Homo sapiens: one gene and its partner. The protein of the gene in region 2 purifies or fractionates together with the protein of the main gene of each other region. This does not show direct contact. Each region holds a gene or a part of one and is shown on either strand. Other genes may lie near its edges.

Region 1 (7,877 bases), on a different chromosome or scaffold from region 2:
AGATTACAAAGGGGACCTGGATAGCAATGAAGACTGCTCCTTGGCCAACGGTCCTGGAATGCAGTTTTGATTTTAGAAGAGTATTGATATCTCATGTTCTATTTGGAGTAGGAGATTAAAGGCAAGCTGCCTGCTTCAGGTAGGGGACAAGATGAGGAACAGGGAGTGCAACAGAATAACTGCTTTTTTTTTTCATTAAAAAAATATTTTTTGGGTAGATGGGTATCACTTTGTTGCCCAGGCTGGTCTCAAACTCCTGGCTTGAAGCGATCCTCCTGCCTCAGCCTCCCAAAGTGTTGGGATTACAGGCGTGAGCCACCGTGCCTAACCCAGAATCATTTCTGTTTAGACCCTGCCTGCTGTGTTAAGAGTGACAGGAAGTGAGGTGGTGCACAAGAGGTACCTGCTGGATGCCAAGACACAAATAGTAGATACTGTCAGGTTCATATCGTTCACCATTGGGCCGAGTGATTTCTCTCACAAACTGGGCCAGACCGTAGTTGAGCTCAGCAGCTGAGCAGGCGAGAATATCCTCTTTGATACGCATGGGTTTGGCTGCAGTGATATGTTGTGCAGGGACAGGATTAAGAAAAACTCTACATGGAGAATTTCACTTAGCTCCATCACCATTAACCCCTCCATCCCTTAGTCATGCCTAGCTCCTGAACAATTACAGAAAGAGCCCCTAACCTGGAACCTAGACAGCATTTCCCTTTAATCTACAACTCCTCCCCATCTTCACAGGGCATCCTTAAGGGATCACACCCTTATCACTTCTAGACATCTTCAGCTGAATCACAGGCCCAGCCCCTTCTCCCCTTTCCCCTCCTCCTCCCTGTCCCTGCCTCCCCACACCCCCCATCCCCAAGTACTTACGGCCAAAGCGCAGCTCATCACCCTTGCTGGTTTCTCCATTGGCATATTTTGACTGCACCCAGCACTTCCAAGCATTGACACCATATGAATAGTTGAGCCCGGTACAACTAGGCTGACTGCTCATGGAGTCCCGGGAGCAGCTTTCGGAAAGCACCAGCCGCTTTTGACCCTGGAGGGGAAGAGAAAGCAGGGGCATGGCAGAGGTAAGGCCAGAGGCAAGGTGAAAGCTAGTCAGCACCATATTTACTGCTGGCCGGGGCAGGGGCTGATGTAAGCACACAGCAAGCTTCCATAGCACAGAGCCCCAGGAACAGCTTTGATGACCTTGTGAGATGGGGGGAGAGCAAAGTTTGGCTTTATCTCAGTACTTCTAGTGTTGGAGAAAGGAGGTTAGGGAAGGTCAAACTATGGTTGCTGGCTTGGCTCTCGCATCATCTCCCCTTTGGGCCTCCATTCTTCTTTTGTACATACAGTAGCCCCAGCCCTACCTTCCTCATGGTTCGGGGAAGGTCTTGTTCAGTAGACACATCCTCAGGCCCTACCAGGCCACAATCAAAGAGGAAGTCTACACTGGGATTAATGTCCAGAGGATCTAATGAAAAGGAAAGAAAGAAGAAATCAATTTCTTAAGATCTCAACCCTGCAGCCCTCCTGCCCCACCCCTGCTACTTGCCCACTTGACACTAGATGAGCCAAAGGAACCAGTAAAGCTATACCAAAAAGCATGCTCAGAGGCACAGAAACGCAAAACACAGCAATGTGAACTACTGAACCGTAAACATGTTGAACATGGTAAAATTTTATGTTTTTTTTCAGCTTAAAAATTAAAAAAAAAAAAAAAAAAAAAAAAGCATGACTCAGAAGTCTAAAAGAGTGCACCTGTCCTGGTGTCTCTGGCACTGCTCCCTGTGAGAACCTTCCGTCTTAGAATCACAATGAACACTTTTCAGGGTCATGCTCAGGGACACAAGGGACACTCCCTTCCTGATGGCACAAATGCTACCATACTCAGTGGGCATGGCTCCAATCTTACTCACTCTTAGGGAAGTCTGCCTCCAAGTCTTGCCCAGGCTCATCCAAGACATTGGCCATCTTGACTGCCATGGCCAGGACATCATCTCGAGCAGGCCCAAACAGGTCACAGTCTTCCAGGAGTCCCTCTGCACTCTGGTTGCTCACAAGATCTGGGAAGCAGAGAAGTTGGCTCAGTGGTTACAAGCTCCTGCTAGCACCCTCACAAGCTTTCAGGGACTGATCCCAACTATCCTCCCATTCTACTAGGCACCAAGATCACCAATACCACCCCCTCGGGCAGAGACATGCTGGTAGCACCCTGTCTCCCTCGTCGCCACCATCTATGGCATACCACAAAGGTCAGATGAGGCCTTGTCTAACTCCTCAGCCTCTGCAATCATTTCTGCCATAGCCAGGATGTCGGCCTCCAAGGGGTTGGAAGGGATCTTCACCTTCAGCTCCTCAATGGTCTCTACAATCTTGTCTGTGCTCTCCAAGGTAGTGGGCAAGAACATGGGCACAGGCACCTGGAGGCACGAATCCCAACTAAATGCCAAGAACCACACCAGCAGTTGGGGGGAAGTTGGGGGGACAGATGATGAGTGAAGGGGGACAGTTGATGAGAGTAAGGGGAAAGGAGGACCCAGCCAGGAAGGGCAGGGAAACTCACCGGGATAGGCATCGAGAAAGGCACCGGGACTTTCTGGCAGTACAGATGCATAGGCACTGGCACGAAGATGGGCACTGGGATGGGCAGCACGATCACCTGTGGCTTCCACTCTTCTGTGGATAAGAAAGGGGTCTTCTCAGAGACCCTGCTGGACTGGTCACATCTGACCCACCAAAAGCTCTAACATGCTCAGTGTCACAAAACTGCCCTTGAATCAAAGGCTGAAAGACACCTCTATGATTCTAGGACAACCATATGAATGAGGCTTCAGCTACCTAAGAAATCCCCTTGTCCAGCTCACGGACATAGGGCTGGCAGGCCTAGGACTCTGGAATACAGCCTGTGGCATCGAGGTACCCTGGCTCACCTGTTTGACTTCCTTTGGACTTCATCTCCACCTTGCAGGAGACGCCCCGATTCTGCATCAGTGGCTTACACATGGCAGCCTTGTTTTTGCGGGGTGTTGCTGGGGGTGGTGGGGGTGGAGGGGTGGGAGCAGTGGGAGCTGATCGGGTCTTCACAGGGATCTGCAAAGACAGAGGAACATTTGTGCCACCAACCGCCGTACCCTCCTCTGAGATTATCCTCCCCCTTGGCTTTTGCCCCGACCTTGCCCAAATTCCCATTTTCCTCTGGGGTCCTCACTGTGTTGCTGTTCTCCACTTTGGTTTGAGAGGGTGTCTGGGGTTTTGACTCAGGAGACTGACCTGTAGATCAAAACAAATGAATGCTCTCATCCAAGGGACTAGCTCTCCATTTTCCTTACCCCTGTTCCAGGAGAGCTTCATTAACAGGTACACCAAATACAGATGGGAACTTCTAGGATTTGACCCCCTTGCCATCCCAGATCTAGTCTCCTCTATGCCCCAGCAATAGCAGCCTAAAAGATTATTTGTTCCTGGAGAATGAAACATTACATTTTCCCCCAAAACCCACATTTGAGACCTTCCACTTAGATAGCCTGAAGAGTCTGTTATCCCTGGAGTTGTGGAGGGGCAGGGGTAACATTCTAGAAATAGCAGTCTTCAGTCTCACTAAATGTAGAGTTTATGCTGAGATTTCCTTATCTCAGAAACGTAACCATAACCCCTATATGCTCCATCCTACCAGGAAAGGCACCCACTCCCTAACAATATATATTTCATAGACAATCAGTAGATGCTAACTCCAAGAAGCTTTAAATAAGACTCCCCCGGTACCTGCAGGGTTCGGAAGCTAAAAGAGAATACAGTTCACAGTACTAGCACCCTATCTGGCCAGGGGTGAGCTGAACGCAAGAGGAAGGAGAAAGGGGCTAGGCTTAGGATTAGGAGAGTCCAGGCTCCCTCTAACAGAGTGTACCCCCTGCCTGGGACTCACTGTTCAGGAGGCTCTCGGGCCCACTCTGGGTATCCAGGTTGGGTTGGTTCTGCTGGCTATAGAAACGCAGAAGACACTGCTGGTTGCAGAAATGACGGATCTGCCCACGCCAGTGGATGGTCTCCAGCAGCTTCCCCTGGCGCTTACACGCATGGCACCGGGCAGCCTGAGGATGTCAAAAGGATGGTCAGACCTGCCTCCCTAAAATGCGTTGGGCCCTTTCTTTCCCCCGGGATAAGCCATGCTCCTCCCCTTGGAGATCGGGCCAGCTTAGAGATGGAAGGCTGGCTGCCCTCCCTGGAGATCTGTCCACACCCCGAGCTCAGTACCACAGCCCGTGCTCCCCACTGCCCTCTTTCCCGCCTCGCTCGCATGCTGACCCTCCTTACCTTGCAGTACCACAGCAGGTACTTGCTCTTACAGTCCTCACTGCAGAAGTCCCAGGTGCTGCCATCCAGTTGCTCGGTGACTCCGCGCTGGCAGGTCTGGGAGCAGTAAGTACAAGTGATACAGCACAAGCCCAGCTTCTTAGTGAAGTCCTGTTTGTACAGCAGCACACAGCCTGGAAAGAGGAGAAGAGGAAAGAGAGTCCAGAGACACAGATACCCAAGGGCAAGAGACCCAACCTTTTCAAGGTGCTATACCTGAAACCTCTCTCTAAGCAGCCCCTTGTGCCCAAAACTTTAGGGGAGATGGGGGTAGAACATCCCGGGCAGAAGGCCCTGCCTCATGGACCACTTTCCCGGCCTCCCTCCCTTCTCCTCCATTCTCCCTGGCTGGGAGTTATAGTGTCTTCTGCCCTTCCCCATCTCCTTACCTTCGCTGCAGAAGCTTTTCTCCACTCCGCTGAATCGGAGTTTCTCATGCAAGAGTTTCTCCTGCCGACAGTGCTCACACTGGGACACCACACCCCGAAGCCGCTTGAAGTCCTCACAGCAATCACGGCAGCAGAACTGGAACACTTGGTCCTGAGGTGGGGGCACAGGGCAGGGAGGACAAGCTGTAACATCTGGCCCCAGCAGGGGCCAAGTGGAAGGACCCCTTCAGACAGTCTGGTCGTGTGGCAAGACGTGGGTGGGGGTGGGGCTCTTACCTGCCAGTCCAAGACCTCAGGCTTGCCACTGAAGAGGCTGTGACAGTAGTGACAGCTCAGGTGAATGCCCCCCTCAGGGCTTGTGCGCTGGAGGGAAGGAAGACAAGTAAGGGAGGGGCAAGATGTGTGCAGCGGTGGGGAAGGGGAGTCAGGCTTGTTCTTTGCTCTGCCCAGGCCTGCCTACCCCAATTCTCCAACCCTCTTTATGTTGCCAAACCCTTCTATCCCTGGTCCAGGGTCTGGAGTACCTGGAACTTGGTCCAGCAGCTGGGGCTGCAGAACTGGTAGACTGTGCGGTCAACCTTGTTGTAGTAACAGGGGTCAGAGAGGCTGCGGCGGCAGAAGCTGCAGGGTCGGGGAGGGCCTGGGGCATAGAGAGAAAGAGAGAGAGGAAAAGAGAAAGAGAGAGGGAGAGAGAGAGCACACAGAAGGTGTAAGGCAGTGTAAGAGACGAACAGAAAATCCATGGGGAGATGTGGTTGGGACTGAGGTCGGGCAGCAAGGATTACTCTGGAAGAGGGGAGTATGGGAGGTAGAGAGAAGGCCAGCAGGGGACTCAGAGAAGAGGGCTTTGCACCTACCAGTGAGCCCTGCCTGCTTCACTTTGTAAGAAGTGGTACAGCACAGGGAACAGAACAAGCTGGTCTTGCCATTACGATCCACATGTGATAGCATCTCAAAGTTCTTACACAGGGTCTTGCACCAGACACATGGGTACACACGTGTGTTTTTCTGTGAGGATGGGGAAGGAGAGGCTGAGGCTGGATTTGTCCCTTCACTTTTATTTTTTAAATGTTTTAAACATGAAATATTTCAGGCATACAAAAAAAGTATAGATGATGATGTAACAAAGACCTGTGTATCCACCAGCCAGCTTCAAAAATAAAACATAACGGATACAATTGAAACCCCCTTTATTTGTTTTATTTCTCCCAGCCCTTGACCCATCAGCCACCTTTATTTATAACCCAAGAACCACACCCCCTTCCACAGCCCTCTAATGCACTACTCCCTCGGCCCCACCTTCTTGTACGCCCCCAAGCAGGTTGTGTTGCAGAACCGCTTTTGTTGGCCCTCGTGGAAGAGGAGCTCAGGGCCAGGACTCCCGGTCTTGGTGTAGATGTAAGCCCCACACTGGTCACAACAGTTGGTTTTCAGTCCCTTGTTGGCCCGGAATTTGGAGAAGCAAGAATCGCTGCAGAGCCGGTGTACCACGCTGCCATTGCTGACCTCGTGCAGGACCTGCCACACACATACACGCACCCTGAGCTAGGGCCTGGCCACCACCGCCCACCCCAATGCAAGGTCAGCCCCCCACCTCACCCTAGACCTTCACAGCAGACAGTGGGCCCAGGGACCCCCCAACCTGCGCCGCAGGCTGCCGACTTGATGGTGAGGTCCTGGGAGGTAAGGAAGGCCAGCTGTGCACATCCTGGAGAAGCTCTGTCCTTGAATACGCTCCCTCATGATGGCCGCCTTTCCTCCCCACTCCCCTTTCCACAGGGCCTGGACCCTGCAGCCCCAGGATGGGAGGGGCAGGTCAGGGCTGGCCAGGCTCTGTAAATCAGCCCCCACTGAGTGTCCTCACCTCTCCAGTCTTCTGGCATATGCTGCAGCGAGTAGCGTCGGCGGGATCCCCAGACTGGGGGATCGGGCGCTGCTGCTGGGCCTCATACAGGGAGAGACAGACGGATGTGCAGAACTCATGGAAGGAGCCTCCAGAACCAGTCTGCGCCACAACCGAGTCCTTGGTGTTCCAGATCTCCCTAGAGGTGGGAACAGGTTTGAATATTCACTCAAGACCACCCTCTCATTTCCTCAGCTTCCGCCCCTCCTCCAGGATCAATGACCACAGAGCCAAATACTCTGACTCTCTCCCTACATCACTCTCTCGCCCAGCTCCATCCTGCTAGGTTCTTACCAACAGTCTCTGTCTTACTCATACTCCTGCCCAGATCCCTGCCCTCTGCATAGCCCCCAAGACCCTCACGCACTTCTTGCAGAAGGTACAGGTCTTTTTGCCCGAGGGCTTCTTGGAGAAAGTGGTGAGGCAGGATGACGAGCAGAAGAGCTGAGGCAGCCCCTTGCGCTGATAGGCAGTCTGCCCCTTCTGCAGTGGTGTCCGGCAATGTGCACAAGTCATCTTGGTGCCCACTGCAGAGCGCCCGGCCCTTTGTGACACACTTGAGCGTAGGGACATGCGAGGAGAGCGCCGGGGCCGGAATGGCACAAAGTCCTCATCATTGGGGTCATCTACCATGGCATCAGAATCCTCATCTGACACTGGAACTGAGAAAGTGGGGGGATGGACATGAGAAAGGCCACCAAACCAGGTCTCCAACCATCCCCTGACCAACAGTTCAGTCCCTCTCCTGGGATCCCTGTTGTTCCGGCCTTTACACCCTGGCCCTTGTTACATCAGTATCTTAAGACCTTGGTGTCTCTCTCCCTTGGTTACTCTGTAACCTCCCAGGGAGGGAAAGGGAGAGGCTCTAAATGAGAAGATTCGGAGACAGAGATGGCATAGCTGAAACAGGAAACTCGCCATTCTCACTGCTCTTGTTTTCAATTTCCCCCACTGCCCCTGGTTCCCATGCCAACCCATAGCAGAGACAGGCACTTCATGCGCTTCATGGAGCAGGACGGCAGGAGCTAGAAGATCCATGCCCTGCCGCATGCCACTTTCGGACCTTTTCCACACCCAGAACTCCCAGGTCACACTTCCTCAAATCCTACTTACTGCTCTCAGTGGAATCTACAACCTCAGGTTTTGGAGGTTCTGCTCTCCTAACGCGCTCGCTTCTCTTCTGTACCTCGGAAAGATGGGAGGGGAGGAAAACTGACACCCTGGCCAGGCTAACACTA
Region 2 (7,877 bases):
ATTCGTACCAAACTATTTACTAAGATATGGTTTAATAAGAAGGACAAGACACCAAACATCAAAAGAGCTTCAGAGAGACATCTCTTTAGCAATACATTCAAAATTTTGTTACTTATGTTTTCAAAGTAACATACATCTTCTGGCTTACATGCATTTAAAGGACACACGTTAGGTTATCTAGGTTATGTAGCAGAGTCATTCACGGAGAATTTACCAAGTCATCTGGGGGAAATGGAGCAAAAGCAGCTATGCGTCATCACTCAACAGCATAACCTGCAAATCCAATTCACCCAGAAGAAAGAGAGCAAAACCACCACCCAGTTCTAGTGAAATAGTTTAAATGCACAATCCTTTGTCCTGATAAAAAAGTCTTGGCTGGGCAAGGTGGCTCGCGCCTGTAATCCGAGCACTTTGGAGGCCAAGGCTGGCGGATCACTTGAGGTCAGAAGTCTGAGACTAGCCTGGCCAACATGGTGAAACCCCGTTTCTACTAAAAATACAAAAATTAGCCAAGCATGGTGGTGCAGGCCTGTAATCCCAGCTACTCGGGAGGCTGAGGCAGGAGAACTGCTTGAGCCCGGGAGGCGGAGGTTGCAGAGATCGCGCAACCTCACTCCACCCTGGGTGACAGAGCAAGTCTCTGTCTTTAAAAAAAAAAAAAAGAAGAAGAAGAAAGAAGAAGTCTTAAGGACTTGCAGGACCACCCCACCCTTTTACCTTCTGTGGCTGGAACTTCCAACTGGCTTGGTTCAGCTGATTCTAAAGAGAAACACAGAGACTGATTTCCACATTGTTCAACAGCTGCTTTATACTATGTAAAGAACCCAGGAGGAGGAAGAGGAGAAAAGCCCTCTAGACTCTGTACAAACACAGGTGCATGATGAAACAATGCTCACGGTCTTGAGATGGAGCACACGATTATCCAAGTGTACTTTCAAATTTCTGTTTTTCAAATGTGGTCCTAAGTTCACATATGCAACTGAAGTTTGAAAGAGCAGAGTCTTAACATAGCTCTACCATGAAAACAAGCTCCTTAGTTATGCTTTCTCCCTTATCCTTCTGTTTACTCCCTTTAATAAAAGCTTTTCATTACTTTTTTTGTTTTTCTTCGTATGTTTGTTTTTTTGAGACAGAATCTCCTTTCTGTTGCCCAGGCTGGAGTGCAGTGGCACGATCTTGGCTCACTGCGACCTCCGCCTCCCAGGCTCAAGCGGTTCTCCTGCCTCAGCCTCCTGAGTAGCCGGCACACGCCACCACGTCTGGCTAGTTTTTGTATTCTTAGTAGAGACGGGGTTGCACCATGTTGGCCAGGCTGGTCTCGAACTCCTGATCTCAAGTGATCTACCCTTCTCAGCCTTCCAAAGTGCTGGGATAACAGGCGTGAGCCACCGCGCCCAGTCTCATTACTTTCAATGACTCACACAGCACCAGGCCATTCCACTTGTTTTTTAAGGAATTTTTTAAGAGCACAATGTGTACATTTCTACTGAAGAACATTTTGCTCACTGACTTATGGCAGACATTAGAAATGGATGGCAGAGTCAGGTTAAAGTGACGGCCCTCTTGCTCTGCCATTTCATCCTACCCATTAATCCTGGGGTTCCTGATGTTAGGCCTGAGCTGGGATAGGGGGTGCAAATGGTCTGCAGCCCCCAGTTCTCAATCAGGACCCACAGCTTGAATTTATGTTTTGATCAGCTGTCAAACCCAGGAGTGAAAACCACAGAGAAGCATGTGTGTGCTGTGTAACTGAGTCCCCTCAGGGCAGGTGACTGAGAGCCAAAGCCACACGCAGGCACGCCATTGTGCCACTGTGCAGGCAGGAGTAGCTCCGGGCCCTCCCCTGCCTCGCTCACCTTGTATCACGGGGCCTTCTGACTCACTCTGATCAACCAGCTCTGAAAATGAAGCAGATTGGTTTAAATAATGTAAGGATGTGTTGTTCCCTTGGAAAAGCATTTTAACATACATTTGCTGTTTCCCTCAAGATGAGAAGGAAACAAACCTCAGAGTTCTGATATGTCCCTCAGAATCACTAATTCACAGTAATTACCATAAAACTCTATACCACACTACCGCACAAGAACAGGAACAAAAGAGAACATTTTATTTATTTATTTATTGGGACAGAGTTTTGCTCTTGTTGCCCAGGCTGGAGTGCAATGGCACGATCTCAGCTCACTGCAACCTCCACCTCTAGGATTCAAGCAACTCTCCTGCCTCAGCCTCCTGAGTAGCTGGGATTACAGGCACGTGCCACCACACCCAGCTGATTTTTGTATTTTTAGTAGAGACAGGCTTTCACCATGTTGGACGGGCTGGTCTCCAACTCCCAACCTCAACTGATCCGCCTGCCTCAGCCTCCCAAACTGCTGGGATTACAGGCGTGAGCCACCACGCCTGGCCTCACTTTTATACATTTTTAATAATAAAGTTAAGAAAACAAAACACACTCGCAAAATTAAGTTTGGCTCAAAATACTATTGAAAATGACATCAACGTTAAGGAATTGAAAGGACATTTGTTCACTCGCTCAGCAATATTTGAGAGCCCCATGTGTGCCAGGCACTGTGCTGAAATACTAACAGAAGCAGGCACATTGTGACTTACTTTGTAACGAAATCCAAGCACAGTAATTATAACAGTCATAAAAGCAGTAATAAATATAGATTGTATTCGCTGAGCACATACTGTAGGCTAAACACATACTAGAGGCTAGACACTGTTCTAGGTTAGGGGGATGCAAACTCTTTTCTTGCAGAGCCAATTAGTAAATATTTTAGGTTTTGCAGGCACACACTTGCTGCTGCCATCTCTCAGTTCTGCCATAAACAAATGGACACGATGGTGGTTTCAATAAAACTTTATGCATACACGTCGGCAGGAGCTTGCTGACACCTGTTCCAGATGCTTTCCATCTACTGGAACGACTCCCCCAAAATCGGTGCTATTATTACCATTTTATGATTAAGTGCATCGAGGATAGGAAGTTAAGAAGCTTGAATAATTTTACAACTAGGAAGTGCCTGGTGTTTTTACTGAGGGCTAAAACAAGTATTTGGCCTGGTTACTGACATAGGTGAAGTAACGTGATATACGTTAAGCATGTATACACACTCACACGCACACACGTCAGACCCCAGGAAAAAACAAAAACAAAACACTTCACAAAATACTCACGGTTATTAATCACAAGTCCTGGAAATGGTCTAAAGAGAGAAACAAATTGTAAAGTATAACAATTTATTTTCACTCTGTAAGAATTTACAGGTATAACTGTTTATTCAACTCATATCTAGCCCACGTCATTTACGTACTACAATGAGAAGTATTATCCGTGACCTTATAAGCTTATGGAAGAGATAGATACGTATCAATAATAAGAACACTGTTAGAAAGTGTTAAGCTACTAGTAAATGGAGGAAAAACAAAAAATAGAAACGCAGAGCAGGGAACAGAGTGATTCTAAGTTTAACATACGGAAGAACGGAAGGGGCTTTTTGCCTAACTCCTGGGAGTGATATGGAGAATGACGGTGGGTGAAGTGGAACCAAAATATGAGATTTTGAGGGAAAGAAGATTGGAAGAAGACGAGTGTATGAGAAGCCTCAAGAGGATTTATTATGAGATTTCTGAGTGCCAGTTCCAAGAGACCTGAACTAGAGACAGTGGCAATCTGATGATGAAATGATTGGGTAGGTTGAGTCGTAGCTGTTTCTGGGGGGCTGGAAGACAAAGGGGAAGATAACCTGGGGTTGGTGCTCAGGTGGGCATCTCTTACAGTGACAAGGACGTGGGAAGGAATGTGGCACTCACAATGGTGTCAGAGGTGAGTACAATCATCATGCCTGCTCTACGGGAAGGAGCTGACACTCTCAGTGGGAACAACGATCAATCTCATTTACAGACAAAGAACAGAGTGACCTGGCTAACAAATGGCTGATGCAAGGTTGAATCCGTCTGACCCGAAGCCTGTGACAAGGCGCCCTAAGACAGAGGTTGACAAAGTTCTTTTTTTCTTGTGATGGAGTCTCACTCTGTCGTCCAGGCTGGAGTGCAGTGGCATGATCTTGGCTCATTGCAACCTCCACCTCCTGGGTTCAAGCGACTATCCTGCCTCAGCCTCCCGAGTAGCTGGGATTACAGGCACCCGCCATCATGCCCAGCTAACTGTTTTATTTTTGTAGAGATGGGATTTCACCATGTTGGCCAGGCTGGTCTGGAACTCCTGACCTCAGGTGATCTGCCTGCCTTGGCCTCCCAAAATGCTGGGATTACAGGCGTTAGCCACTGTGCCTAGCTAAGGTTTTTCTACAAAGTGCTAGAGAGTAAATATTTTAGACTTTGGAGGCCATGCCTTCTCAGTCCCAGCTACTTACTCACTGTGACAGGAAAGCAGCCATGGATAATACGGGTGTAGCTGTGTTTCAGGAAGACTCTAAAAATAGGAGGCAGCCTGAATTTGGCAAACAGTCCTAGTTTGCCAACCCTTTGCCAAAGAATTAAAAGAGTCAGCTTAGTTCGTAGAAGCACATCTGACATTCTAATGATGACACAAGTTATTTTGATTTGTTGATTGCACAGCATAGGAAGCCGGATTCGATGACTACCTGTGGCTGCATTTTAGAAGAGTCAGCCTCATGAGCTCCAGATTCGCTCCTGTGACTAAGCAGGAAACTCTCACTTACCTAATGACCGTGAATTTGATAAACTCGGCAGAGTCTAAGATCCTTCTCATGGAGCTGATTTCCAGGTAGCTGGGGGCTTTGAAGGACACCCCCGGGGGCATGCCATCAACTACCACACAGCCAGGGTTAATTGTGATTTTCCTGTAGGGAACTTTCACAGGAAAACCCATACCAATAGCTTCACCTACAGGGACAGTGAGACAAACAGCACAACAGCACAGATTAACCCACCGCCTTAAACAGCCTGTCAAAAGCACAAGATCAACATTTATTTTAAAGACTGTCTCTGCTGTTAACTAAGGTCTTTGTACACTTCAAACAAATTTAAATATGAACCTTAAATTTTTTTTTTTTTTGAGACAGAGTCTTGCTCTGTCACCCAGGTTGGAGTGTGGTGGCTTGATCTCAGCTCACTGCAATCTCTGCCTCCCAGGTTCAAGCAATTCTCGTGCCACAGCCTCCTGAGTAGCTGGGATTACAGGTGTGCACCACCATACCCGGCTAATTTTTTGAATTTTTTAGTAGAGACAGGGTTTCACTATGTTGGCCAGGCTGGTCTCGAACTCCTGGCCTCAACTGATCCACCTGCCTCGGGCTCCCAAAGTGCTGGGATTACAAGTGTGAGCCACACTGCCAGATGGTGAACCTTAAATTCATTAACTTTCATACTGACAATCAATAGTGTAACACTAATGGTATCTTATTAAATAAATTTAGCACAAACAACTCACTTTTAAATTTTAACTCCTTTTATATAGGATTACAACCATCCAACCATCATCTGCTGAAAAGATCTTATTAAAACAAATCTCTTTGCTTATAGCAACTGTACTTTGCAAATGCAAAACTTACCAAATTTCCGACTAAAGAGGTCATTCACTTGTTCTCTTAGCTGTCTAGCTTTTTCAACTTTCGAGAGTCTTTCATTATCATCATCTGAAACAGTTCAGAGAAAACCCAAAACTTAAATACTGCTTTTTTTTTTTTTTATGGTAAAGAGATGGTATCTCACGATGTTGCCCAGACTGGCCTTGAACTCTTGGGCTCAAGCGATCCTCCTGCCTAAGCCTCCCAAGTAGCCGAGACTACAGGTACAAGCCGCTGCTCAATGATGCACTTTTAATCCCAATTTTTAGGAGCTCTGTGTAATGTTTTCAAGCATTTTCCATTTTTTAATGATTTAAGTATTTGAGCACTTTGAGCTAATTAAATTTGAAATTGTTTAAAATAATGCCTAACTAAAAATGCTACAAATTTATTCTTGTTATAAAGACCTTTACCTGCTGTTTTATATAGATTTTTTTTTTTTCCCAGATGGAGTATGGCTCTGTCACCAAGGCTGGAGTGCACTGGCCCCATCTCGGCTCACTGCGACCTCCACCTCCCGGGTTCAAGCACTTCTCCTGCCTCAGCCTCCCAAGTAGCTGGGATTACAGCCACACACAACCAGGCCTGGCTAATTTTTCTTGTATGTTTAGTAGAGTCAGGGTTTCACCACGTTGGCTAGGCTGGTTTTGAATTCCTGACCTCAAGCGATCCTCCTGCCTCAGCCTCCCAAAGTGCTGGGATTACAGGCGTGAGCCACCGTGCCCGGTCTCATATAGACTTTTTTTAAGGAACAGACTAGCCATTTGGGTGGTTAACAGGATTTAGCTCATGCCAAGTGCCAAAACTTGCCGTTGCTGTTTGGAGAGCAACTGTATTTGGAAGGCAACTGCTGTAGGAGTCTGGGAGGAGCACCAGGCAACGTGTAATGTATCCGAGTCCCCGGATGAGCTGAGCAAACCTCTCTAGTTGGGAAAGTCCAAGAGGCCCTGAAGAGACCCCCAAAAACTCTGATGGAAGCAGAGAACTCATACCTGGAATTGTCACCTGAATGATGTTAAGGTCTTCAACACCTGATGCAGTAGTATTAACATTGGGTGATGAATTTATTTTTCCTGAAAATATACATTTAAAATCAGAATTTGTAGAAAACACGGTCAACATCTCTAATAATCATGCTGTCTGAGACTGTTTTATCTCAGTCCTGTTCAAGGTTCTTTCTTTCCATGGTAGATCATTTCAAGAAGACATGATGCCCCCTGAAGGGCTGCCTTTCACTGTTTTTCTCTTCCTGGGGGTACTTAGGAGATCATCACACACTCACAGAGCCACCCAATTATTAAATAACTAAAAATTGTGAAATAGCCTGAACTACAACTTTGAATGGGTTTTCTTTTTTCTTTTTGAGATGAGTCTTGCTCTGTTGTCCAGGCTGGAGTGCAGTGGTGCGATCTCGGCTCACTGCAACTTCCGCCTCCCGGGTTCAAGTGATTCTGCTGTCTCAGCCTCCTGAGTAGCTGGGATTATAGGCGCCTGCCACCACGCCTGGCTAATTTTTTATATTTTTAGTAGAGACAGGGTTTTGCCGTGTTGGCCAGGCTGGTCTCAAACTCCTGACCTCAGGTGATCCACCCACCTCAGCCTCCCAAAGTGCTGGGATTACAGGCGTGAACCACCATGCCTGGCCTCAATGGCTATTCTTTAAACAATGTTTGTAAACCACAGCTGCACAATGCATGCCTAAGAGCGTGTGTTCTATAGCAATGAAAATACAGAAAATACACTCACTGGGAGGGCTCTTAGAGGAGGTGCTCTCCTTAATCGCCGTCTCAAACATTTCGGGCCTATAGACAAAAGAGAAAAAAAATGTGCTGATCAAACAGTAAAACTCTAACATTAAAATTTAAACAACTCAAAGATTTACAAACCAGTAACTCTGTAAAGTCTAAATTCAATTCTTAGTCATGAAGAACAGAAATCACATGCTTATCTAAAGAACCACAGCCAAAAAGACAAACCACAATTGTAAATTTAACATCCATTGCTGCCTCTCATTGGCTGCCCTTCCCCTACACTGGTTTTATTGGCATCTTCTTTCCAAGGTTAGAATGTATCCTGAAAAGAATCAGCGCCAGAATTGAGGATGCAAAGAGAAAACGCCCCACAAACGCAGCATGGAAACACAAGATGGGCTGTGAAAACAGGAGCACTTGAGGCTCTCACTCCGGAAGCAGAAGCAGAGGGCTTAGAGGCTGCCAAACCTCTGCAGACCTGGCCAAAAGCATAAAAGGTGGCCATTGGCCGGGCGCGGTGGCTCACGCCTGTAATCCCAGCACTTTGGGAGGCCGAGGCAGGCGGATCATG

The links.
Region 1: the proteins of GTF2I (region 2) and ZMYM3 purify together in Homo sapiens (co-immunoprecipitation; 2 studies listed by BioGRID and IntAct, with this or other methods). This does not show direct contact.

The regions. Positions count from the first base shown.
Region 1 is NC_000023.11:71,243,426-71,251,302, forward strand, and holds part of ZMYM3 (zinc finger MYM-type protein 3), read right to left. Parts: intron 7,820-7,877; coding exon 7,753-7,819; intron 7,302-7,752; coding exon 7,007-7,301; intron 6,779-7,006; coding exon 6,601-6,778; intron 6,255-6,600; coding exon 6,036-6,254; coding exon of another isoform or gene 6,018-6,035; exon of another isoform or gene 5,779-6,017; intron 5,745-5,778; coding exon 5,594-5,744; intron 5,377-5,593; coding exon 5,261-5,376; intron 5,100-5,260; coding exon 5,013-5,099; intron 4,888-5,012; coding exon 4,737-4,887; intron 4,482-4,736; coding exon 4,309-4,481; intron 4,086-4,308; coding exon 3,920-4,085; intron 3,268-3,919; coding exon 3,170-3,267; intron 3,088-3,169; coding exon 2,928-3,087; intron 2,674-2,927; coding exon 2,561-2,673; intron 2,418-2,560; coding exon 2,243-2,417; intron 2,061-2,242; coding exon 1,914-2,060; intron 1,469-1,913; coding exon 1,365-1,468; intron 1,046-1,364; coding exon 877-1,045; intron 556-876; coding exon 404-555; intron 1-403. UniProt on the Homo sapiens protein: Plays a role in the regulation of cell morphology and cytoskeletal organization.
Region 2 is NC_000007.14:74,750,841-74,758,717, reverse strand, and holds part of GTF2I (general transcription factor II-I), read right to left. Parts: intron 7,358-7,877; coding exon 7,302-7,357; intron 6,629-7,301; coding exon 6,548-6,628; intron 5,625-6,547; coding exon 5,541-5,624; intron 4,873-5,540; coding exon 4,689-4,872; intron 3,210-4,688; coding exon 3,181-3,209; intron 1,899-3,180; coding exon 1,857-1,898; intron 760-1,856; coding exon 718-759; intron 1-717. UniProt on the Homo sapiens protein: Interacts with the basal transcription machinery by coordinating the formation of a multiprotein complex at the C-FOS promoter, and linking specific signal responsive activator complexes.